3 separate regions of the Homo sapiens genome follow, and all the other regions are linked to region 1. The links come from fine-mapping of genetic effects on gene expression. A gene starts in region 1. Each other region holds a variant in brackets. All regions are shown on one strand. Distances are from middle to middle.

Region 1 (8,180 bases):
TACAAACGAGTGAGAGAGACAGACAGTAGGCTCAAGGGCATTTAGTACTGTAATGGGGGCAGCACTTCCAGGATGCTGCAGGAGGCACAGAGGAGGAACAGCCAATTCTGACTCAGGAGATTATGGAAGCCTTCTTGGAGGAAGTGATGTTGAGACTGAGAGCGGAGGGATGAGCGGAAGTTAGCTAGGTCATAGGAGTGAGGGGTGGGGTGGCGGGGAGAACTTCAGGCAGAGAACAGGATGCACCTTCTCAGGGGCATATGGGTATATTTGACATCTAATTATTTTTGTTTTTAGAATTACCTGTTCAGTGTTTATAATCTCCTAGCACATCTATGCCAAATAGAGCTAAGAGGTACCCTGGACCAGGGTTTTCAAAAATATCTGCTGGTTCTTCAGTTCTGGAAGGTTTGCAAAATTCTGATGTGACTTTGATTTCTAAGTGTTATTTAATATTTTTAAATTAAAAATTTTTATTTAGCACAGTTTTAGATTACTATTTAATTTTTAAGTTTAAATTTCAGGCCGAGTGTGGTGGCTCACACCTCTAATCCCAGCACTTTGGGAGGCTGAGGTGGGCAGATCATGAGGTCAGGAGCTTGAGACCAGCCTGACCAACATGGTGAAACCCCGTTTCTACTAAAAATACAAAAATTAGCTGGGCATGGTGGCATGCACCTGTAGTCCCAGCTACTCAGGAGGCTGAGGCAGGAGACTCGCTTGAACCCGGGAGGCGGAGGTTGCAGTGAGCCGAGATCGTGTCACTGCACTTCAGCCTGGGCGGCAGAGCAAGACTCCGTCTCAAAATAAATGAATAAATTTCAAACTAATTGCAAAGTTACAGAAAAGTTGTGAGGATAGTACAAAAGAAAATCCCCTCAAAAGTCCCATATATTTTTAATGACTTTACCACTTGTTAGTATTTTGCATCATTTGCTTTAATCATTTATATGTCTACCAATATATATGCACGCCCTCCTTCCACCTCCTCATCTTATTATTTTTATTATTCTTGCCAAACAGTTCGAGACATCATTTTACTCCTAAATACTTTAGCAGATACCTGCTAGAAACAAGGACATTATCTTGCAGAATCCCAGTAAAATGATCAAGTTCAGAAAAACTAGCATTGATACTATCCTACTATCTAACATCGCGTCTATATTTGAATTTCACCAATTATCCCAACAATGTCCTTTACATTTTTCTGGTTGGAGATCCAGTCCAGAATCACCCATTGCCTTTAATAGTGATGTGCCTCAGCCTCTTTGTCTTTCACATCATTGATATTTTTGAAGAATACAGGTCAATTGTTTTGTAGGATGCCCCTTAATGTGAGTTTGTTTGATGCTTCTTCATGATTAGATTCCATTTACGTATTTTTAGCAGGTAAATGATATGTGTCTTTTTCAGGAGACCATATCAGGAGGCTCATGGTGTCTGTGTGTCTCATGATTGGGGATATAAACTTTTATTTGTTTTATTTTTTGTATATTTTAAACTGTAACAAAAACATGCATCTCCAAATGTGTTTCTATTCAAATTTTATCACAAAGAACATTCATAATGAGCTAATCTGCTCTAGGTTACCTTGACTGAATGCAGACCAGAGTATTCAGTCTCTCCTGCCGGCTGTGCATATACCTGAACTTTGCTCAAGTGTGTCATTGATTAATAATGTTGTAACTGCACATTGGCCTAGAAATGCTGAATGTAAAGTTGTATGGGTAACAAATTACTGCTTAGTTATACAAACAAGAATTTGCTTGACACAGTACAATGAAAACAACATACAAAAGTAAACTGGAATCCTGAGGCTAATAGTGAGCCCCATTGAGCAGATTTGGGTTCATCATGAGAGCATCAATGCCTAATTTTATACTAATTTGGACTTATACAAGAAATTAATAAAATACCCTTTGCATATGTTGTATATGTGTTTTATATGTTGGGTTCCTATATAAGATGTTGATTAAAATGAGGATCTCTTACTTTGGCCATTTGGAAACCACATTGTATCCCACCATAGCTCCTAACCACTGTACAATTTCTGCAACTCTCTCATCATCTGCAAGCCGTGATGTTTCTTTTCCTGGTACCTGGGATTTTGCCCTAATTTTTAACACCTACAGAGCTCAGGGAACACACATATATAATTTACCAAAAGGTTTTGGGGTGTGGTCCCTGGATGCTCCAAAGTGCATACAGTTTGAGATTTCTTTCTTTCCTTCTTGAAGTTCAGTTCTGCTTATGTTAAAACATGCCAATACAAACATTAGGAATACAACCATACCCTATGCAATAACCTACTTAGCCACTGACCGACACCTCCACAAATGACCCAACCATAGGACAGTCCTACCTTATTCCAGAGCTTTTATTCCACAAATGAGGACACTGATATCGAGACAGGTGGATCTCCTCCTTCTGAAGGACAGCTGCTAACGGTAGTCAGATGCAACCCAGCTCTGCTGGTGCCAGGGATTGGGGTGGTTTTCTGATGGCAGAGGCAGTCCCTCAGGAGGTGACAAAGCTCCTTTCCTTTCTCTTAGCAAGTGTGGGTGGCTGGCAGCTGAAGCAGGCCTTGGGCAAGGTCCTTCAGTCTGGTTTACTCATCTCAAACTCAGCCAGAGTTGAAGCCCAGCCAGGTCCTTGGAGGCCTCTAGATTTCCTCGTAGATTTTGTAATAGAAGATGTCCTAACAGAAACACAGGACTGAATAAATGTAGATACCTTAGAAAGTCATTTATTTAAAAAAAATAGCTGGGCATGGTGTCATACACCTGTAGTCCCAGCTGCTCAGGAGGCTGAGGCTGGAGGATTGCTTGAGCCCAGGAGTTTGAGGTTGCAGTGAGCTGTGATTGCACCACTGCACTCCAGCCTGGGTGACAGAGGGAGAATTTGTCTCCAGAAAAAGAAAAAAAAAAAAAAAAGAAAGAAAGTCATTTGTAGTATATTTTCTTTGGGAAAATACATTGAGTTCAAAAAGAATTTTCCAAGCTCAACCAATGTATCAATAAATTGGAGACTACTTACAACTCACTTCATTCCACTGAACCAGTATGGATTTCATATTTATATATGCAAAGTAGTACAATAGTTATTTGGTGGATGCAAAAAGAATGGTCCCATGCTCAAGACATCCGCAATAATCCTGGAGAGATGATACAAAGATATATTAAAAACTTAATAATCATATAAGGTAATGTCTGATGACATGCTCGGATGAGTGGAAGAGAAAATGGGCCACTGAAGAATGGAGGTAGTCAGACGTGGTTGAACGCTGCGGCTCCTAAGTCAAATGACCTGCGTGAAACCGCAGCTGCTCCACTTCCTAGTCGTATGGCAAGTTTCTTAAAAGTTCTCTAAGGCGCTGAGAACAGCTCTGGGCATTTTTGGTGCCCCAAAAATGTTAGCCATTATTATTACCTCTCAGTCTGTGCTTGAACCACCACTTCAAGAATGGGCAGGGTGTGAGTAGAGAGGCGGGAGTGGGTTTTGGAGCAGGGTGACAGAATCATAATGAATTGTCCTCGCGAAAAGCTCCACGAACTACTTTTCTAACTTTGTTGGCAGCTACCAAGTGTGGGCGGCAGGCGGCCATCCTCTTGGCCGCCTGAGATCCCAGCGCCTGTCCCCAGGGGGCGCTGCCACCCAGCTGCCGCCGCCCGGCCCAGCGCGCGTCCCCGCCGCCCACCCGCGCGTGCGCGCCGCCCAGGTGAAGAGGCGGCGGCCAGGGCCGCGGCTGGGGCGGGCTCCTCAGTGGGCCGGGAGGGGCGGAGCCGGGAGGCCCGGGCGGGGCGGAGCCGGGACGAGCCCCAGGCTGGAGGCGGGACCAGCCGCTGCCGTCTCCGTCTCGGTGTCCCGGCCCCTACAGCGCCCGGCAGCCGCGGCGGGAGGAGCGGAAACTGTCGGGTGCGTCCCGTTCGGAGCCGCGCCGGCCGAGAAGGCGCCGAGGAGCAGCGAGGCGGCCTCTGTCCGGCCCGGACCCGCCGAGCGGCGTGCGCGCCCCCTCCCCGTAGCCTCGCGGCGCGGCCTCGCCCCGGCCCCTCCCGAGCTCATCGCGGGCCCACGGAGCGGCCCCGGAGGCCCGAGCGCGCCCACCTGAGCCCCCGCGCTGGCGCCATGGCGGAGCAGGAGAGCCTGGAATTCGGCAAGGCAGACTTCGTGCTGATGGACACCGTCTCCATGCCCGAGTTCATGGCCAACCTCAGGCTCAGGTGAGGGCGGAGCGGCCGCGCGCAGGGGCGCGAGGCTGCGCTTTCCCGAGAGGGGGCGCCTCGGGGCGCGGCCGGATCCGGGGTGTCGGGAGCGCCCAAGCTCCAGGGATGGAGGCGCGGCCGGGCTGCGGTGTCCGGGGGTCTGCCAAGCTCCGCGGCTGCGCTTTCCCGAGAGCGGACGCCCCTGGGGTGCGGCCGCTTTGGGGTGCGGGGGGCGTGTCGAGCTCAAGGGCCGCGCTTCCCTGAGAGGGGAGCCCTGGGCGCTGTCCGGGGTTTAGGTGCAGAGGGTGTGCCGCGCGGGAGGGCGCGCTTCCCCGCGCCAGGTGAGGGATGTGGGCGGGCCGGTGACCTCATGGAAACTGAAGGGAAATAACTTGAACGAGAGTTGCGGTGGCCCCGAAGGCCCTAGGAGGACTGGAGGATTATTTTGGAGAGAGGCTGGCGTCTCATCCCGGCTTTACACTTGCTTCTTTTCTTTCTTTCTTCGCCCTTCTTTTTTTTTTCCTCCTGGCGTAGTTCCATCCTGTCATTCAGGATGCTATGGAGTGATCCCTGAGCTGTCTGTTCCGGGACACTGGCTATTTTTTTAGTTACTCTCTAAACGTAATTAGACACGTTTCCAGACATCGAAGAGACTGCTGTACTTGCCAGTGCCAAGATAAACTGTCTGAATTTGACAAGACGTTCATGGTTTTGGTTTTTTTCAAGGAGTTAGTGGATGGAGCTCTTGTGTTATTAACATCCTTGAGAACGTAGTCACAACTCAACGCCCCAAAATGGGCTTCCAAGATGTGGATTTGTTTTAGAAAGCCCTTTACATGCGATTATTTCACCCTTGATAGAGTAATATGTAAACAGTTTTAAAGTAGTTTGACTTAAACATTAAAGTAAGTGGAATTTCAAAATAGCTGAGTTTTGGTGTGCGTGTGTATGTTTCCCTGCAAGCTTTGGCTGCATTTCTTCTAAGGTTTATAGCTAAACATCATTCCTTAAGCTTATAAAGTGAAAGTCATAATCTAGGCTTGGGTGCTTAACCCTAATTTCATTATTAACTACCCCTGTCAATCCAGTTGACAGGGGTCAATCAGGTTGATTACATACCAGCATAATGATAGGATGTTACATTTCTGATCAAGGTTTGGATGTACAACTTTTATAGAAATCACCCCAAATATTAATCAAAATGATATACCTCTACATCAGCTATAACCAATACCCATTATCATAGTGATTAAGAGTCAGACTGTTGAGATTCAAATTCTAGTTCCACTGCATTCTTGCTGTGATCTTTGAGCAAGTTACTTAACCTCTCTGTGCCTCAGTCTTCCCGTCTGTAGGATTGGGGTTGTCCTGAGGGTTAAATGAATTATTAATAATATGTGTATACATACTTCAAAGATTAGTGCCTGGCAAATCCATATTAGTAAAACTGTTTTAAGTTTTCCCAAGTGCACATAAAATAGATAAAGGGGTAAGTTACATAGCAATTTCATAGATTAAGGTTGTTTTAAATTAAGAGATTCTACTCCTCTCCCCCACAGGAAATAAGTTGTGTGCTTTGAGAAATGCCTTTATAATTTTGTCACTCTCAGTTATAATCATTTCAGTTTTTCAGACATTGGTACATTTATTATGTACATACTGTATACAAGACCATGTAGTAACAGTTGAATATGAAGCCTTTCATTTTAACCTCCATCTTTCACCTCCAGCAAATACATGGGCTTAGCCAGAGCTTTTGCAGAATTTTCAGAATTTGAAATTGAAGGCATAGAGTCTAACAGGGCTACATTAGTTTGTAGGACTACTCCTCTGTAATAGAATTAAAACTCTTGTGGTTTTTAAAAAGTAAATTGAGGGAAGGCACTTAGAATTTCTGCTTTTTTTTTTAAAGCATTAAGTCTCTTAAGTGTGAAGTTTGAATCTCAAAATAGATTACTAAGGTGAGCCTAACAACTCCTATGTGTACAGAAGAGAATGCTGCAATTTATTTATATTTATATTTATATTTTTTAGAGATGGGCCCTTAGAGTTGCTATGTTGAGCAGACTGTTCTTGAATTCCTGGCCTCAAGCAATCCTCCCATCTTGGCCTCCCAAAGCACTAGGATTATAGGTGTGAGCCACCATGCCCGGCCGAATGCTGCAATTTAATTCTACTGTGTGCAAGGTACTCTAGGAGATAAGCTAGGAGTATCCAAAGAACTACAAGATGTGCTGCTTACCTCTCGAAGAGGTGACATCTCAATGAAGACCTGGAGAAAGGTGGAATTTTCTATTGATTTAAAGAATAGTTCAAGAAAACAACATCAGGAGGCTGAGACAGAAGGATTGCTTGAGCCCAGGAGTTCAAAGCTGCCGTGAGCTATGATCACACCACTGTACTCCAGCCTGTGTAATAGAGCACGACCCTGTCTCTTAGAAGAAAAAGAAGAAAGAAAACAGAGAGAGACAGAGACACAAAGAGAGAGAGAGAGACAGAGACAGATAAAGAGGAAGGAAGGGAAGGAAGGAGAGAAAAGAAAAAAAGAAAGGAAAAGAAAGAGAAGATAAAAGCCTTATAAAGCTTAGGTGATTATTTGTCAAGTAATTATAGAAATTGTTCTGGAAGTTCAGAAGAGAGAGAGATACCTTAGGTTGACTCCAAAACACCTTATAGAGGAAGAGAGGAGTTGAGCTGAGTTCCAAAGGATGGGTAGGATTTGTAAAGGTGGACTCGTGGCTGGAGAGCATTCCAGGTGGATTAAGCAGCATGAGCAGGGGTTGGCGGCATGAAAGCTGACTCTGGGTGACAGTGAATAAGTTAAGTTGTTTGGAAGGGAAGGGGTTGGTGTTGTGGAGAGGTGGGAGGAATCACCAGCTCTCCATATGGCCATTGGCTAAGGCCCAGGTTTTTAGGTCTACCTTTATACCCAATCTCCACATCATTCAAAATCCTGGGTGTACAGATGTATATGTATTTGTATGTATCTCATCTGTGTGTCCTTGATGACTCTGAGAACTGGCTGTGGTTCTCATTGTACAGATCAGTGATTGTTCATGACTTACTTATACATTAAAATAGTTGGTTCCCTGTAGCCATAAACACAGTGCCAGCAAAGGGTAGCACCCTTACCCTCCTCTGAAACTATAAATTCTGACCCAGACAGAAAACAGTCCTCTCTTTCCTTTCACTTTGCAGAAGGTGACCAGAAACCCACCACTGCGTAATCCAGGTGCTGTTCTGTGATGTTGAAGTGTTTTTGTCTCCTGGAATATTGGTGGTTGGGCACATATTTCTGGTTGTATATAGCTGAAATTGAGCGTGTTTGGTCCATTGGTATATATGGATGTGTGAGTGAAATTCCCATGTGTGCTTGTACCTCATGACTCCTGCCCTCCCAAGCTGTAGTTCCTGCTCTTACTCCCCAGTCTGGAATGTCCTGTCCTCCCTTCCCACCTGGCTCTTCTGCAAGGCCTGCTTCCTTCCTTTAAGTCATGTAATAGTCAAGCACTCAAGGCTGCAGGTGCTTCATGGGTCTGTGTTTTCTCAACAGCAGCACCTAGCATAATGCTGGGTACAGAGTACATTCCTTCATGACAACATTTTTTTGTAGAGAGGGAAAAATGCTTGTTACTTTTTTTTTTAAAAGCTTATGTGGCATTGTCCTTTTAGAATTATCTTCTTGTTTTGCTATTAATCTGGCCTTCTTTTTCCCTCTTGGAGCTAAAGCTTGATTTTTAGACAACTGCCACAATTGATGCAACTTTCTCCTACCATTTTTACTTTTAAAAATTGACCTAGGCCGGGCGCGGTGGCTCACGCCTGTAATCCCAGCACTTTGGGAGGCCGAGGCAGGTGGATCATGAGGTCAGGAGATCCAGACCATCCTGGCTAACAAGGTGAAACCCTGTCTCTACTAAAAATACAAAAAATTAGCCGGGCGCGGTGGCGGGCGCCTGTAGTCCCAGCTACTCGGGA
Region 2 (8,180 bases), 380 kb after region 1:
TACACGGAGCCCAGAGGAAGCAGGGAGGGTGGAGGCAGGGGCCACCCTGCTGAGCGGGAGTCAGGAGAGCCCTGCACGGAGGAGCATGCCCCGATTGTCTGAACACGAGAGGGTGAGGGTGAACTAATGGTTCCCATTTTCTGTCTCTTAATTTTTTTGAGCTGACGTGGAGCGTGGCCTGTTTAGAGCCCATTCCCTCAGACTGAGTCACCAGGTGATTCTGGAACCCACTGTGTACATGCAGTTCCCCAGGGAAGGGCGAGGGCAGAGTCTGGACTCCCTGCACAGGGAAGGGCACAGGCCCTCCAGGAGGGCGAGCAGGGGGAGGCCGCTGCCAGGGTCAGGAGGGAGGCTCCCAGAGGACAAGAGTCCAGTGAGAGGGACCCAACGCCATACCAGGTTGACAGAGGGGAGGCAGGGAGGCCACCCCAGCTCAGGGACCAGCCTGGTCCTGGAGGCATCTGGTCCAGCACGAGGGCTGCAGGGGCCCCACCTGGACCCCGCCGCCAAGGGCTGCACATGAGCCCTGCAGAGCGGCCCTGGTGCCCACAAGAGTAGAAGAGGGCCTGAGTCACGGCCTCTGCTGGGCTCTGCTATTTTTATGTCCAAGTCTGGTTAAAAATAGCTGTCTAAGCTCAGGTTTTAGCTGCAGCTGACAAGACATTAAGTATTAGATACGTAATGCCCACAAGTGACAACCGGGGTCTCTTCCTGTGTCCGTGAGAAAGCAGGGGGGAGACAGCCATGAGGAGAGCCCCTGAGCACCCCGCACTTACCTCTGAAACTTTGGGGCCTGCTGTGGGGCGCGCCCACCAGGTGTCCTCAGAAAGCGTGTGCTGGGCCAGGTGCTCTAGTGACACCCATTACTCTGGGCACGCTGACCCCGTGGAGCCACCGCACGTCGGAGCCCTTTGAGCTGCCTCGGCGTCTGAGCAGTTGCGCCTCCCGGGCAACCAGTGCTTAGAAAGTGCCTCACGTGCTCATGGCCTGGTGAAGGCGACTCCAGGCTGGGCAGAAGCTCAGCGCATGCTGGCCTTGGCCCTGGCGTTCCCCTGGCCGTGTGGACACGACAGCTTGGCGTTCACTGCCCAGCACTAAGAGCAGCTCCGTAAGTCCAGCAGAGCGTTCAAAGCGGGACCAACCTGCCCACGCCCCAGACGCCATCCCGAGAGCAGTGAAAAATTCCCAGGGCTTTCGGCATACGGAGCAGAGCCAGCCAGTCCTGACTGGAGGCTCCGAGGTCAGGAGGCTTCCTCCTTTCTCCTCTCCCCTCCCAGCTCAGAGCTGACAAGGCACAAGCTGAGGTACAGCGTGGGATTGTGCTGCCTGTGTGAGCAAACATTGGGGTGCCAGCCTATCGCGACAAGTGTCTCTGCTTTTAAAACCAGCAGCAGCTTCTTAGCATGTTCAGCGTCGTGTGAGGAGCTGGAGGAAGGGCTCGGGCTCGGGCTCTGTCCAGCAGGAAGAGCACAGCTTCCGCCTCTGCACCCGACCTGGAGCCCGGCCGGACGCCCGGCTGAAGCCGCCTTCATGTGCTCCCAGGCCAGCGGGGCTTCCTGCTGCACAGGGTTCCCTGCAGCCCCCGGTGGGGCACCGGCTGCACTGTTCTGCAGCCTCCAGGGTGGCAACCAGCCAAGCGGCCCAGCTCCAGATGAGAGCAGCCTCTCGCTTGGGGAAACCCAAGTCAGGCCCACTTCCACCAGCCGGGGTGTGACAGGCAGGGACCAGCCAGGAGCAGGAGACATCTCTCTCTCTCTCTCTCACTGGGGCATGTGGCACGGGTCTCCCGCAGGATGGATTAGTGTCAGAGTCAGAACCCCAGCCCTGGTACACCGAAGGACCCAGGGGCTTGGTCCTCAGCCCCAGCCAGAGACCTGGTGGCGTCTGTTCAACCACATGGCCCTCCACTGTCCAGTCCCATGCGCTGGCATGGGAGCCAAGGGCCCTGCCATGGTGCCGAGGCTGTGGTTGGAGGCCCAGCTAGTGCCACACTCGCCTTGCCTCGGCCTCTCTGGGGCCCTTCAGGCATCCTCCTGGCACTTGTGGAGGAAGCAGGCTGCGCCGGAGCCAATGGTGGCCGGGAGCTGCCGGGCAGGTGCCCTGTTCTCATGCTGCCTGCTAACTGCCCGTCTGGTGTTTTTGGTTCCTGCAGTGAGAAGCGCCACCTTCAAGTGAACGTCACCAACCCAGTACAGTGCAGCCTGCACGGGAAGAAGTGCACCGTCTCCGTGGAGACGCGGCTCAACCAGCCCCAGCCCGACTTCACCAAGAATCGCTCGGGCTTCATCCTCAGCGTGCCCGGGAACTGACGCCCCGCGGAGGCCTGGCCCGGAGCCCGGCCACACTCCGAGTCCTGGGTCCCAGTCCAGCTGCTGCCTCCCAACCCATGCCCGCTAGAAACCTGCTGCGAGGGCCCCTCCCAGAGGAGCCCCGCCCCTGTAAGATTTCCTTCCTGGTTTTCTGCCTTTGGTATCATCTTCCTCTGTCCTTACTGTCCACGGTCCCTGTTCAATAAGCCAAAGACCCTGGTGCCCCGCCCAGACCCCTGGGCTGACGTCCAGACCAATCTCACCCCAGAGGCAACTGGATGGTGCCTTTAGTTGGTGCGGATGCCCCGTGGCCAGGTCAAGTCAGAGCACCTGGACAGGTGTCCTCCCTGCTGCTGACCCTGCAGAGGGAAGGGGTGGGGATGCAGGACCCCACTCTGCGGGAGCCCCATAGCCACCTCTCTTGCCCAAGGTGAGCCAGCCCTGGGGACCCAGCTCAGGGAGGCTCTGCTCAGAGTTCGGCGGACCCACCCCAACCCAACTCCCAGCCGCCAGCCAAAGCCACTGGGTGAGCAGAGTCACCCACAGGGCCAGCCCCTCAGCCAGGAGCCAGTGGCAGGAGCGGAACAGCCCATCCAGCAGAGTGAGTCCATCCTTCCCAGGTTCTCCCCTGGGAGACTCCCTTTGCCACCAAGGCCCCCACCAGGGCCTCTGACCACCGCTCTGGAGAGGACAGTGTGGCATGCTCCAAGGATCATCTTACTTAACTCGCAGCCTGTGGCTGTGGTCCTCTTATAGATACTTTCACCGTTTGCAGGGTTGCTAATCAGATACCTGCTGTCACCACACTTGGGTCAGGAACCCTAATGAGAACGGGGAGCTGCCAGGGTGAGGGCAGCCCTCAGGGTCGGCCGCTTTCCCTCTGGACCACCTCCCGCTGCGTTTCCTACTCAGAGAAACAGCAAGGGCGGGGTCAAGACACGGGATGACGGGAAGCAGGAAGCGGGGCAGCAGCACAGCGTGGGGTCCTGGCACTGCAGGCCAGGCCAGGATGCCCACCCCGCCCTCTACACGGCCCCTTGGGGCCTGCGCCCGTGAAACTGGTGCCAGGGAGCACTGCCAGCTTGCCAGTTTCTGCCCAGCAAAAGCACGTATGCTTCAGGGGCCTTCTGAGACCACCTTCCCCACTGAGCCCCAGCTGCTGAGAAGGCCTTGAGGGAAGTAGAGGCTGGGAGCAAATGCCCCATGCGGTGAGAGGATGAGGGGAGCCTACGCCTCAGGCATGTGGTGAGAGGATGAGGGGGAGGGAGCC[A/C]ACGCCTCAGGTGGAGTGGGCAGAGGTGCAAGAGAGGGATGTACTGAAGCTTCTTCCCGTCCTGCCACAGACACTTCTCCTGCCTTCCCACCCTGACCCGGCAGAACCCACCAAGTGCCTGTGTGCAGCCTCCTGTGCCTCACCCAGGGCCTGACCCCAGAGTGGTCCCAACAACCCGGTCTCATGCCCACTCCCCATCCCTGCTTCCCAAAAATTGCACTGTGTGCAGTTTGCAACAAAGAATCCCGCTGGCATCCTGTCCTTGGGAACCCTTTCTCATTCTCCAAGCCTGGTCAGCTGCCTGCACAGGCAGAGGTGCCCTCAGCCCAGATTAGCAACACTCATAGTTTTGCCAATTACCAGTAGACACTAGTGGAACCATCTAACTGGAACTTCCTCTCTCCTTCCACTTATTTCCTCAAACTTGTTGCTTTACACTAGACACATGCAAATGTATGTTTTAAACACACCAAAACAGATCATGCCAAATGAGTTGCCTGTCAAAGGCTGGAGGGCAGGAGGAGGGCCTGGGTTTGGGTTCTTTCCTCCCAGCCTTTGGATGGTGCCTTGGGCCCCTTAGCCCCAGCGCCAGGGCCTCCCAGCTGAGGCCACAGGACAAGCACTTTTTTATGATGTACTAAAAGCCACAGTATGTGGCAACTGCAAAAGGATCAGGAATTTAGGGTATGATCTCGGTCACGTGTCCCGGGCGCTGAGGGGAAAGGAAGCGGGCATGATTGTAGACAATGAGGGGGTTCTCTTGATGTAATGAAATGCAATTTTATGGTTTGGTGCAAAAACTCCTATTTTCCAGTAAATTAACTTTATTTCTAAAGCATATTTTGATTTGCCATCAAGAGCAATAAAGCATTAAATCTTATTTTTAAAGGTGTTCTGCTTATCTGTCACTGAAAACTTGGTGAAATTTTTGCTTAAATAAAGTCAACCATTATCTGGGAGGATAGAAGGGAGAATTAAGCACAAATCATGTAAAATGGAGGATGATTTGCCTGAGGCTTTTGAACAAAAAGTGAGCAAGAAGCAAGCTGTGGACCGGAGGTGTGAGGAGGGAAGGAGGCCGTGGGGTTGAGTCCCAGCACTTTCTCCTGCCATCTTGAGGCCTGTGCGCTGGCAGCTGGAAGCACACTGCTTAGTGCCAGGGAATATGTTTACTGCAATAGAAGCACGTATGTAGAAAGGAAAGGCTCAGAGACCTACAGCAGCAGACTGGGGACAGGCCAGGCCAGCGGAGTGAAAGGTGCTGGGAGGAAGTGTGGGGGCGGCAGGGAGAGTGAGAGGAAGCAGCAGCTCCTCCTGGGGAAGGGAGCAAGGCCCTGAGGGAGCAACAGGGCATGGCCAGCACCCAAGGGTCCTGCAGCCAGGGTGCTTCCGGTCACTGGTCATTGGCAGAAAAGAACACGCAGCGGTGGCTTCTGTAACTCAGACGAAGGCAGTTGCTTTGTGGAAAGCAAGTGGCCTTGATCACAAGGCTGACAGCTCCCAAGCTACAACTTGAGGACAAGAAAGACTTTCCTAGTACTCAGGAGCAGCTTCAGACCGCAGGGTGCAGGGCCTGGGGAGGGCCACATCCAGCATCCCCATAACCCTCTTCCTGAGGCTGACGCTGGTGGCACGTGCAGGCCTCAGGCTGGCAGTCAGGACAGGTACAGATAGAGCTGGTAGGAACCCCACCCTTGCCGCAATTATGGGCTGGAGTGGCTGCTTCCCTGGGAGCCACAGGGCTGGATTTCTCCCTCCTGGAAACCCGCATGGAGCTAAACCTGCAGGGTTGGCCCATGTGGACGCCAGCCCACCCCTGCTGGCCTGGGAGACCCCGGGGGAAGGGAGCACAGAGCAGAGCCAAGCCCAAGAATACGTGGGAGCAGCAGCTTCAGAGTCACACCTCGACACAGGGAGTCTAGGGTCCAGAGCCCCTGCAGGACCCACCCGGCCAGACCTCACCAGGCCATGCTTGGGCCTGACCCTCCTTGGCCGGAGGTTCCAGTCACCCAGCTCTGCCACGGGAGCCTTTGGGAAACAGCTGCCCTCACCTCGGCCGACGCTAAACCAAAGCTGACTTAACCTGTGCTTCCTTCTTAATCACCTTAGTGTGTTAAGCCCTCGCCCCCAACTCTGTCCTCCCCTCCCCAATAACACAAATCCAATTATGTTCTGAGTGCATGAATCATTTAGTAAAGGGGGCCCCAGCCTGCCCACAAAAAGAGGTCTCTGTAATGGATGGTCAGTGCATTTTATTGAATCAGCACAGTACAAAAATAAATAAAAATAAGGGAAGGGGAATTAAATTACAGCCAAACTGAGCTTCATGACTTTGTCAGATTATAAACCACACATACTCACAAACACACTACACATACATACAAAATGAGACAAATATAAATTAATATTAACAATACCCACAGTTTGGTCAAAGAATAGCTACAGAAGAAATTGCACTAAAAAACCAACATACATCACACGTGTGTAATTAGCAGTTTCAAATATACAGCTATGAATAATTCTGAGTGAAAAAAATGGCACATTTTCTTTTCATTGCAAGTTTAACTGTTGGAACAAAACTAAGTTCTAATAACTGCATGGAAAGAATATATCAACCCTCCAGGTTTACAAGAAAAAGAGAAAAACCAAATCCTGAACTATTATTCCTGTGGCTTGTTCTGTGCATGGGTGTAATTTTCACAGCCATCTGTTCTAAGATTATTTTTCTTAAGACACAAAATGCTCCTGGTTTGCATGCACAATATCACCGTAAAAGCAACAATTAAAGAATAAAGGTTTTTTTGTAGGTTTTTTTTTATTGTTGATCTAAAAGTAGTCTTCATAGCAGCATGGCAAATGGGTTCTTTGCTTGCACACTCAAGTATATCAGTTGTTCCTTTACACAATACTGATGACCAGTGCAAGGGGAGAGAACACGACAGGCTTCACACTGAGGGAACTAGAGAGTTCTTCCCTTAGTCCCCACCACTTCCGAAATGTCCACCTCCTCCGAAGAATAAAAAAATAAATACGGAGAAAGAGAAGGAAACAGACACGCAACTGGAATCCTGTGGATGCAACGTAACTGCACAGTTCGCAGCCAGGTTCCGCCAGCTGAGGGTGATACACACATGCGCCCTCCTCCTGAGACTTGGCACTGACCCTCCCTCTTCCATGCCACCAGGGGCCTCCCACCTCTGGTCGCACGCGGCAGCAGGATCTGAAGACAGGCTGTGTGGAAACCCAGCAGAGAGGAGGTGCTGTGTGAAGTCTGTGCCAGCAGCCGCAGGCTCCTTCCACCGCTGCACCGATTATCTGACAGTCCCAGGAACGGCTCTGCTGGGCCTCAGGTGCAGCAAGGCAGATGTTCTCCGGCCGGGCAGGCTCTCTTCCCCACCTCTGGGAATGCCTCCAGCCACCAGGTTCTGCCTCAGGACTCTTAAATTGGGACTTCAATTTCACAGCTTTCTTTTTGTGTAAATTTCAGTAGTGCATGTGCTGAAATCGGTAGCCACCTCGAACTTAATCCTATGTAAAGTGACCCTCTGCCTCCCCACCCCAGGTCCCCATTCCAGCACTCCCCAGTGGACTGGGCCTGGAAGACAGAATCCTCTGTAGTGTCTTCACATTGGTCTTTGTTCTCCACAGCCGAGTGATGGGCCATGGAGGAAGGCTTGCTCCCTCTCCCAAGTCCCAAGCCACCAATGCGGGAGAATTAGAAAGAAAATCAATAAAGTACACATTTGTGTTTTTACAGCCAGTAGGGTAAGGTGGAAACCAAAACCAGCAGCTGCAAATGATCAGTTGTAGAAATCAGCAGGCTTCCAGAGCAATCAGGAGTCTCACTCCCCGTCTTGTAATTGTCTCCAAGATCCGGCTGTCTCACTGGTCCTTGCTGGGCAAGGCTTCCTCTTTAGAAGAAACTCAACTGTTTAGAAACAGCTTTAAATTAACGGGTGGGGGTGGGGTCACCACATCGCCTTCCCCCCAGCTCTGCAGGACAAATGTCATGTGCACCAGCAAGAGGCCTTAGCCCTTAGGTGGGCACCGGCTTGGTCTCAAGGTATGGCATCCCTCACCTTGCCCAGAAGGCAGGCGTTGCTAATGGGCACCTGCAGCTGTCCTGGCATTTGCCACAGGGTGACTGCACTACATTATTCAAAAGAAAAACTCACCCAGGAAAGCTGTCCCCAGCTTCACCCCACCTCTTTAGCTGGGACCCAAATTGAGAGAAATTAATGAGTCAAACCAGCTCATCGGCCAATACCACCAACGTGGCTGGGAGCAGCAGACAAGGGGGTAGGGGGGCGAGTTCCATTTCTCCACTAAAGAAAAGCCCTTCTCCCTAAAAAAAGAAAACAGCAAATCAGGGCGGTGTGTGGTCAAACGACCAGACACAATCTTTCCACTAGACCCGCTCAGCTTCGCCTCGCCTAGATTGAAGATGTCCCCGGGTGGCGGGGATCTTGCCTCACGACCCCACTGGCAGCTCAGTTAGGGTGGCTGGCTCCAGGAGCCTCTGGGAGAGTGAATAACTCCACACAGGAGCCAGAAAAGGGCCTCCAACCAGAAACCCCAATTCCTCCCTGGGCCAGGCAGCC
Region 3 (8,180 bases), 61 kb after region 1:
TATGCCTCAGTTTCCTTCTCTGTAATATTAGATCCTATATAATGTGGTTTTGAGAATTAAAAATAGTTAAGTCCTTAGAACAGTATCTGGCTCATACTCAAAGCTTCATAAATGGTAGCCATTATTATTATTCTGGTAGGAATTTGGAATTAAGAAACTGAATAACTAAAAGAGTTACTAGTAGAAACTAAAGGTAGAGTGTCATGAGATAGAACAGTGGTTTTTATTCCTTTTTGGGGTCATTGCTTTCCTGAAGCATCTGATGAAAGTATGGACATTCCCTGCAGAAAAGTTCATAAGTATATATAAACAATAAAATCAAGGTTGAAAGCACCTGATGCAGAGAATGATGGAGAGGAGGCCACAGCAAGTCAGAGCCATGTGCAAGTCAGCCTTGAGAAGGAGCAGAAACTGCCACCAAAGCAGAGGGAACTGTTGAGTAAACGGAGGGGAATGGACTGAATGAAAAGGCAGAAGCAGAAGCTGGGAGATAGCCCTTCAGTTCCGGTCCAGTGATTTCTACCCCAGAATTCCTGTGAGATCTCTGTTTATCTCCTCACAGCCAACTTCCCTGCTTATAACCAAGCTAGCATAGCCTCCCTTCTTGCAATCACACTATCCAGACCGAAAAAAAAAAAAAAACTTGAAACCAACTTCTACATGATGAAGCATTATTGCTGTGTCATTTCAGATTTCTTTCAGCCAACATTATGATGTTTTCCTGTGGTGTGATTATATCAACAGCAAATGCTTTCAGAGTAAAGTGAATAGCCATCTGTAGTTACTTTTCAGCGGCTGCTAACTTCCTTTTTTGTAGATAGAACACTTTCCAGGCATATCCTAGTTTTTAACATTCCACTTTAAGGAAAAAGCAAGGAAGAAGTAACGTCAACCTATCTCTCTAGTAGAATTCTCTTTTATTTCTATTAATTTTTTAAAGTTTTTAAGCAGAAAATGAGGCAGAACTTCATAAGATTTTGTAGGTGAAAAGGATTTTAAGGAATTTTCCAGGCCCATTACATCCAAAGAAAACTGGACCCTGGTATCCTATTGCATACTTAGTCTAATTTAGTCCTCACAGTAACCTTATGTGATATAATACCCTTCCTTACAGATGAGGAAACAGGCTTAGAGAGATCTGACCCCTTGCCCAAGATCGCTATAGCAAGTGGTAGAACCAGGATTTGATCTCAGGGTTTTCTGACTACAAAGCCTATGCTGCAATGCTTCACTGGACTCTAAAACTTAGGCTAGAGAAGAGTGAGGCTTTCACTTTATTTCCCCCATTGGTCTCTCTCTCAGCAGCTCTTCTAGAAAAGAAGAATGGGAACTTGCAAGCCCCATTTTTTTGATCCTTGAGCCGAATGGGTCTTGAATGTGTCCATCGAGCATCTGCCTCCGTTGCAGTGTCATCTCAAGTGGTGGTACCTTCCCACTGGGCTGGAGCTACTATTGGATACTTAGCCAACCCTCCTTCCATAATGAGGCCTTCACATGGGACCACAGCTCAGCATTGCTGGGAAGAATGGTCAGAGACTGCAGGGGCAGCAGCGATCCACAGTTTGAACAGAAGCATCACTAAGACTTGTTTACAGACTATTTGCAGGATAGAGGTGTGGTTAAAAGCACTGGCTCTAGAAGTAGACTGCTTAGGTGAATCTCAACTCTTTCACAATACTTGTAGGGCAAGAACCTACTACCTCTTTTTTTTTTTTTTTTTTTTGAGACGGAGTCTCGCTCTGTCGCCCAGGCTGGAGTGCAGTGGCGGGATCTCGGCTCACTGCAAGCTCCGCCTCCCGGGTTCACGCCATTCTCCTGCCTCAGCCTCCCAAGTAGCTGGGACTACAGGCGCCCGCCACTACGCCCGGCTAATTTTTTGTATTTTTAGTAGAGACGGGGTTTCACCGTTTTAGCCGGGATGGTCTCGATCTCCTGACCTCGTGATCCGCCCGCCTCGGCCTCCCAAAGTGCTGGGATTACAGGCGTGAGCCACCGCGCCCGGCCCCTACTACCTCTTAAAGTCTCCATTTCTTTATCTGGAAAGTAAGATATTTCTTTAAAAGTGCATACCATATAGGGTTGTTGTGAAGATTAAATGTGATAATGCACGTAAACCACTTAGCTCAGTGCCTGGCATGGTAACGCTCAGTGAGTGTTGGCTATTACTATACTACTTGAAAACAGTTTAGAGAAAAAGCAAAGAAAGAGGAACATCAACCTCTACTGGATCCTTTTATTTTGGTTAATTTTGAGTTTTTGAACTGAAAACAAGTCATAAATGTATAGGCTTTTATAGCTGGGAAGGATTACTTTCCTTGAAAATGGTAACTCCTGTGTTTAGCTGACAAAACCAGTTTTTAAACTGCAGTCATTTTATGAGTGTAAAATATTACCTTCAAAAGGCATAGAATGTATATGCATTTTATTACTGTAATTAAGAGAGGTACAAATATGTTCTTGTTCCAAGTTTTTTGTTGCTAAACCATTAAATAATCTGGTGGTTGTTTTCCTGTTACTCAGCAACATAAAGAAGCTTCAGTCTTCAGTCTTCAGTCTTCATATCTTTTTAGAAATGCATAAAATTTGTAGATTGCTAATGTATTCTTGTAACATTACTGTTAGCCAGGCATGGTGGCTCATGCCTATAATCCTAACACTTTGAGAGGCCGAGGTGGGAGAATCACTTGAGGCCAGGAGTTCAAGACCAACCTGGGCAACATATCATGACCCTGTATCTACAAAAAAATTTAAAAATCACTGTGAAGTAGCTAGCAGATAATTACTATTTTTATTTTATTTATAGCAATACATCTAGTACCTCATTAAATAGAAATTTGAGGTACAAGTAGTTACTTGCCTAAGTTACATAATTTTTCCTCACCAAAAACTTTTTATTCTGTGGCATTTCTTACCGCTTGTCATCTTTTTCTTTAGTTAAAAACACTAATTTTTTTATTATTTAAAAAAATTCAAAAAGGGACTGTATTATATTGGAAGAAAGACTAAATCCTGTGTGTGTGATGAAAATGGATTAAGGTTTTGATGTTGAATTTTAAACTCATACTTATGCTACATCCAGGAATTTTTCATAATATCTGCAGTTGAGGTGAGTGCATCCATTTATTAGATTTAGACCACTTAATATAAAAACAATGAAGTAACTCAGGATTTACTAATTGTAAATACATAGTATAAATATGTTTAGAGAAAAATTATATGCAAATGTTTTTTCCCTTGCCTAGAATTTGAAGATATTGTTAAAACATGGCAATCTATTGCAAACTTGACTGTTTAGAATCAAACAGAATTATTTAAAATTCAGTTTTAATAGTACTACAGCAATCAGGTGGAGAGAAACCAAAATAATTATTAAAATGATTTCAAAGTTTAAGACGAAAAGTAAATAACATTGGACTAAGTTTCCAACCTTTCCCTTGGTCTAGGACATTAACCTTCTCTCTTTAGCTGCCTAACCCTTATGTATCCTTCTGGGCCCTGCGTTTGTCTCAGTGAAGCCTTTCCTAACCTGGTCAGGTCTCATGTTTAATACAGTGTTAGCACTGTGACCTCTTCCTATATCTCTTGTTTGTCTGGATTGTAATAATATGATTGTTGATAATTTTTTAAAACTGTGTTCCTCACTTGACTCTAAGTTTGATCAGGGCAGGAACCAAATGTGCCCTTTTCACTCCCAGACGCTTAATGCAGTGTTAAACATCACACTAGACCCACAGACATTCTCAATAAATATTTATTGACTGATAGATGAATGGATTCCTTGTTTAGGATATTGTAGCTGAGAGATATTGAGAAGAATCAACTGGCTACTTCCCACTGGTTTTCAGATCAGTTAGTTGCTACTAGGTTACCATGGATAAAGGATTTGTTTATAAGCCCAGAAGTTTAATTTTATCCTCTTGATTCTCAGTTATTGATACTAGTAAACAAACTTACAAGAAACTAATTTGTATGAGAGAATACAACCCCGAAATTTACATAGGAAAATGTACCTAGAAACTGGGGCTTGTGGTCTATACAGGTGTGGCAGAGACGGTAATCACTTACCTTGTCCTTCTCAACATTTCCTACCTAGCTTGCAGTTAGGTGGGGACCACAGGACTAACCTGTGGTATTGGCCAATGAACTCTGCACAGAGTGATGTGTCACTTTGAGGCCAAGGGAATTCAGAGCCAGCATGCTTTCTTGTTTGTTTCTTTTGCCAAAGCGTGTGCTCTTTAGGCCTCCTGTTCTCATTGGCAAATCTACGAGAGGGAAGAGGGCTGCCTGACCAGGATTGGACTTAAGCATAATAACTATGCTTTTAAAAAAGTTAAGAGAATAAGAACTAACATGAAAATTTAAAATATTTAAGTCATTATCATTGATATTTTTCCATACTTTAGAGATAGTTCTCACAATTCTTGAGCCACAAGTTTGGAATGATTTCTTCTACCACAATATTTTTGGTGTCTTCCTGGTAAATAAGGAAAATCCAGGTTGAAATGGGCAACTTCTATAAGTCAAGAGCTGGAAAATCTTTTTTCCTACAGTTTATGTATTTTAGCAGTAGTTTATGTAGCAAAATGGATCTCTTATGAGATAATTTTTTCATTAAGTATTTTTTCAACAGAATTATATTTGAGCCTTGAGCGCCTATTTTCTTCAAGATATTGTTAAGCTCTGCAAAGGT[G/T]AGTAAGTCATATATCTTGTCTTCAGTATTTTACCATCCATAACAGACTGCTAATTATTCAGCAAAATGTGTTTCCTGTTCTTTGGAGGCACATCCTCCCTTGCAGTTACGTGTCATGTGACAGAGTACTCATTGGTGGAATTTCTGAGGTCTAGACACTTCTAGGTCTAACTCATAAAAGCCTCCCGCAAGTGATTCTCCATTCTCTGCCACTTTTGTTGGCTGGCTGTTGATGCGCAGCGTAACTTGAAGTCATGTGTTGAAGATGGAAGCGTTTTTGTCGGACATGTCACTGAACAGTTGCATGGAGCAAAGGCCTACTCCCTCCCCACAGAAACGTTTGTATTGGACTAATGTATGGGTAATAAATCAACTTCTTGTGTAAAGCCACTGAAAGTTTGGAGTTTATCTGTAATTGCAATTAGCATTATTCTAGGCAACTTCTAATAGATGATACAGCAATTCCAGTGTGAATATTTAAATTTTCAACAATGATTAATTTGTCTTATTTGTAATGCATCGTGCTTAGAAGAGACATGTTTTCATTTAAAACAGTCTGCTAATTCTTTCTCTTGCTTTCATTACTCCAAATTATATGTCTCTTCTTTTAACAGCCAACAAATGGCTACTCTGATTAAGGAGGCCCTTCATTATCCTTCTTCCTCTCACACCGTTTTATAAGGTCATTTATATGGTTTCTGTGCTTACAAATTCATTGAGCATTTACTCTTATTTATAAGTGCAGTAGGAAAAAAAGAAGGGATAAATTTAGAATGTTAACACAGAAGTGTTTTTTGTTTTTGTTTTTGTTTTCTTGAGACGGAGTCTTGCTCTGTCGCCAGGCTGGAGTGCAGTTGTGGGATCTCAGCTCACTGCAACCTCCGCCTCCCGGGTTCAGGTGATTCTCCTGCCTCAGCCTTCCGAGTAGCTGGGACTACAGGTGCACACCACCACACCCAGCTATTTTTTGTAATTTTAGTGGAGACAGGGTTTTACCATGTTGACCAGGATGGTCTCGATCTCTTGACCTCATGATCTGCCCACCTCGGCCTCCCAGAGTGCTGGGATTACAGACATGAGCCACCACTCCTGGCAAGAAGTGTTTTTTAGATGGCTGACCTGAACTCTGGCAGGTCACTTTTCTAAAAAGTGTTGCTGCCTCGAGAAAGTTACCAACATGTGAAAGCTAGTTTGTATTAAACCTTCCACCTAATGCCCATGGCAGAAATCTAGTTATTCTTGATTCATGTCTGTCCTCACCATCTCCACTCCCATCTGATCAATCACCAGATGAGGTCAATTGAGTCTCCTAAATATCTTTTGAGTGTGACTACCACCATGCTCTAGTGTAGGTTTCTATCAAGCATCCCATGGACGCAGCTGTCTCTTAACTGGTCTCCATAGCTCCAGTCTTAAGACTTCCATGCTGTAGCCAGAACTTCTTAACATGACTTGGAAGGCCCTTGCATCATCAGCAATTAATTCTCCTCTCTTTTCTCTAGTTTTCCTTTCCTTTACTGTTACTGTCCTTTCTGTGCCTTGTGCTCCAGGCTTACTGAACTTCTTTCCATCCTTTAAACATGCTTTTTTCTTTCTGAAGCCTCTCAGCCTCTGTTCCTGCTGAGATCTCCATGTGGCACACTACTCTTTCCCACTCCTCCTCCTCCACCCCATCGCCTCAATAATTCCTACCCATTCTTTAGTTTTCAACTTAGATGTTACTTCTGGGATCACCTTCTCGGTCCTTGAGGTCTGGGTTAACTGCCTTTCATTTGTACTGTAATATATCTCCCTGCATTTCCTCTAATAGCTCCTTTGTTACATTTTCCTTTTACTTGTCTGCATCCCCTACTGGGCTGTCTGGAGGAACACAGACCATAGTTATGTTGATCACCATTGTATCTAAGCCCTTGGCGTATTGCTTAGCACAAAAAATATTTGTTAGATGAATGAGTAATAGGTTGTGTAAGAACCTAGTCTTTTTTCAGACTTGTCTGTAGAGTGATATTTGAGGATATAATAAAGAAGAGACTGAAGTCAGTGCCAGAGTATCTTTTCACATATTGGGAAATCATCAGTGAAGACCGTTTATAGGAGAAATGATTGAATGCTGGATAGTTGTTGAAGATTGAACTAACAAGATTTGCCAATGGATTGGATGATGGGTGTGGATGACTCCATGTGTATAAGTTATATTTGCTTGGCAAAATTGTTCATGAAAAGTTAATGTCGCCATTATGGTTAAGGTGATTGTGAGAATTAAATGGCCTATACATATAAAGTCTCTACCTAGTCTAGTGCTTGGCATTTTGTAGGTACTCAATAAATATTATTTTCCTATTTGTAAGTGACTTAGTGCTTTGTTAAGGCAAGGAAGCTGAATGTGTTATAACATGCTGCTGTTTCTAAGCAAAACTGTGCAGCAGGTGAAGTTGGTGCCCAGTGTCTGCTGGAACTTCTGCAGTCCTCTCCGTTGTCCTACCCAGAACCCCACAGGCTATATCTCAAGGTCAGTACTCCTTCCCTTGACCTGGTACTCTACTTGTCTCTCCAGTTCCCTCACTTGGAAGGCTTATTACTCTCATGTTTCATCCTGACTTCCTCTAACTTAAGTGTAGGTAACACAACATAAAGAGTTAAGAGCATTTACTCTGCTGTCAGACTGCTGGGTTTGAACTGTGGCTCTATCACCCCTGACCTTTGTAACCTTTTGCAAGTTACTAGACCTCTCTTGTCCTCATTTTTTACCATATGTAAAATAGGAAGAGAAACTCTTAGAACTGTGAGAATAAAAGAGATAATTCTTGTAGTACATTTGAAATTGTGCCTAGCACATAAAAAACACTGAATAATTGTTTGCCATTTTGAGTCATAATCATACCTGATGACTTCAGCCACTTCTGTGTAGCCCTCAATATCCCTTCTGTACCAATTCTTGAATTTCTGCACTCCTGTCCTCTCATCCATCCTTTGATCTTGTTTCCATTTGGAAAAGTAAACTCAAACTCAGAATTCAAAACTAAACTTATCAACTTCCCTATTAAGGCAAGCTTATCTCTTTTTATAGCAGAATGTGTTGGCTACAAGTAGTAATAGAAAAACCCAAATAAAAGTGACAAACTACAAGGAAAGTTATTTCTCTCCCATAACAAGAAGTGTAGTAGTAGAATGGGTCCTGGGTTGGATAATTCAGTTGCTCAGTTATGTTTTCAAGGACCCAGGTGCCTTCCATTTCCTCAGCATTTTGACTTGTCCTTTTAGACTGGCTCTCCTCAACTCAAGATGAAAACTCAGGCAACACGTGCATATGACAGCTTTCAAAAAGGATTGCCCCACATCTTTACTCAGATCCAAGAAAAGCTTCCTAATCTCATCAATGACAAGAGGACTGGAATTCCCAGCTTTACCTTAGACTAACCAAGATCCATTCTCTTGGAGCTGGGGATAGCATTCCATTTCTGGAACACATGGCTTGGTGAGGGATGAACAC

The links. PIP is the estimated chance that this variant, and not a neighbour inherited with it, causes the effect. A credible set is the group of variants that fine-mapping cannot tell apart.
Region 2: its variant is the best candidate, but not a certain one, in a credible set for the expression of MYO1D in tibial artery (GTEx, PIP 0.60).
Region 3: its variant is the best candidate, but not a certain one, in a credible set for the expression of MYO1D in whole blood (TOPMed, PIP 0.86).

Annotation. Positions count from the first base shown.
Region 1 is chr17:32,872,818-32,880,997 of GRCh38, reverse strand. It overlaps MYO1D (myosin ID), which reads left to right and starts at 3,874. Exons shown (of 22, transcript NM_015194.3): 1 at 3,874-4,220. The coding sequence starts at 4,126. It overlaps MYO1D-DT (MYO1D divergent transcript), which reads right to left and starts at 4,143. Exons shown (of 4, transcript NR_184086.1): 1 at 4,105-4,143; 2 at 3,037-3,154; 3 at 2,363-2,698. RefSeq lists silencers at 4,155-4,342, 3,549-4,538.
Region 2 is chr17:32,488,888-32,497,067 of GRCh38, reverse strand. CDK5R1 (cyclin dependent kinase 5 regulatory subunit 1) reads right to left here. Exons shown (of 2, transcript NM_003885.3): 2 at 5,815-8,180. It overlaps MYO1D (myosin ID), which reads left to right. Exons shown (of 22, transcript NM_015194.3): 22 at 2,153-4,546. The coding sequence ends at 2,309. LOC124903982 (a long non-coding RNA gene) reads right to left here and starts at 1,620. Exons shown (of 2, transcript XR_007065716.1): 1 at 777-1,620. RefSeq lists silencers at 3,892-3,941, 6,665-6,786 and an enhancer at 5,517-5,636. The variant A/C (reference allele first, on the strand shown) is at 3,580.
Region 3 is chr17:32,811,669-32,819,848 of GRCh38, reverse strand. All of the region lies in intron 1 of MYO1D (myosin ID), which reads left to right. Among named protein-coding and RNA genes, the nearest start is that of MYO1D-DT, 61 kb to the left of the region's middle. The variant G/T (reference allele first, on the strand shown) is at 4,691.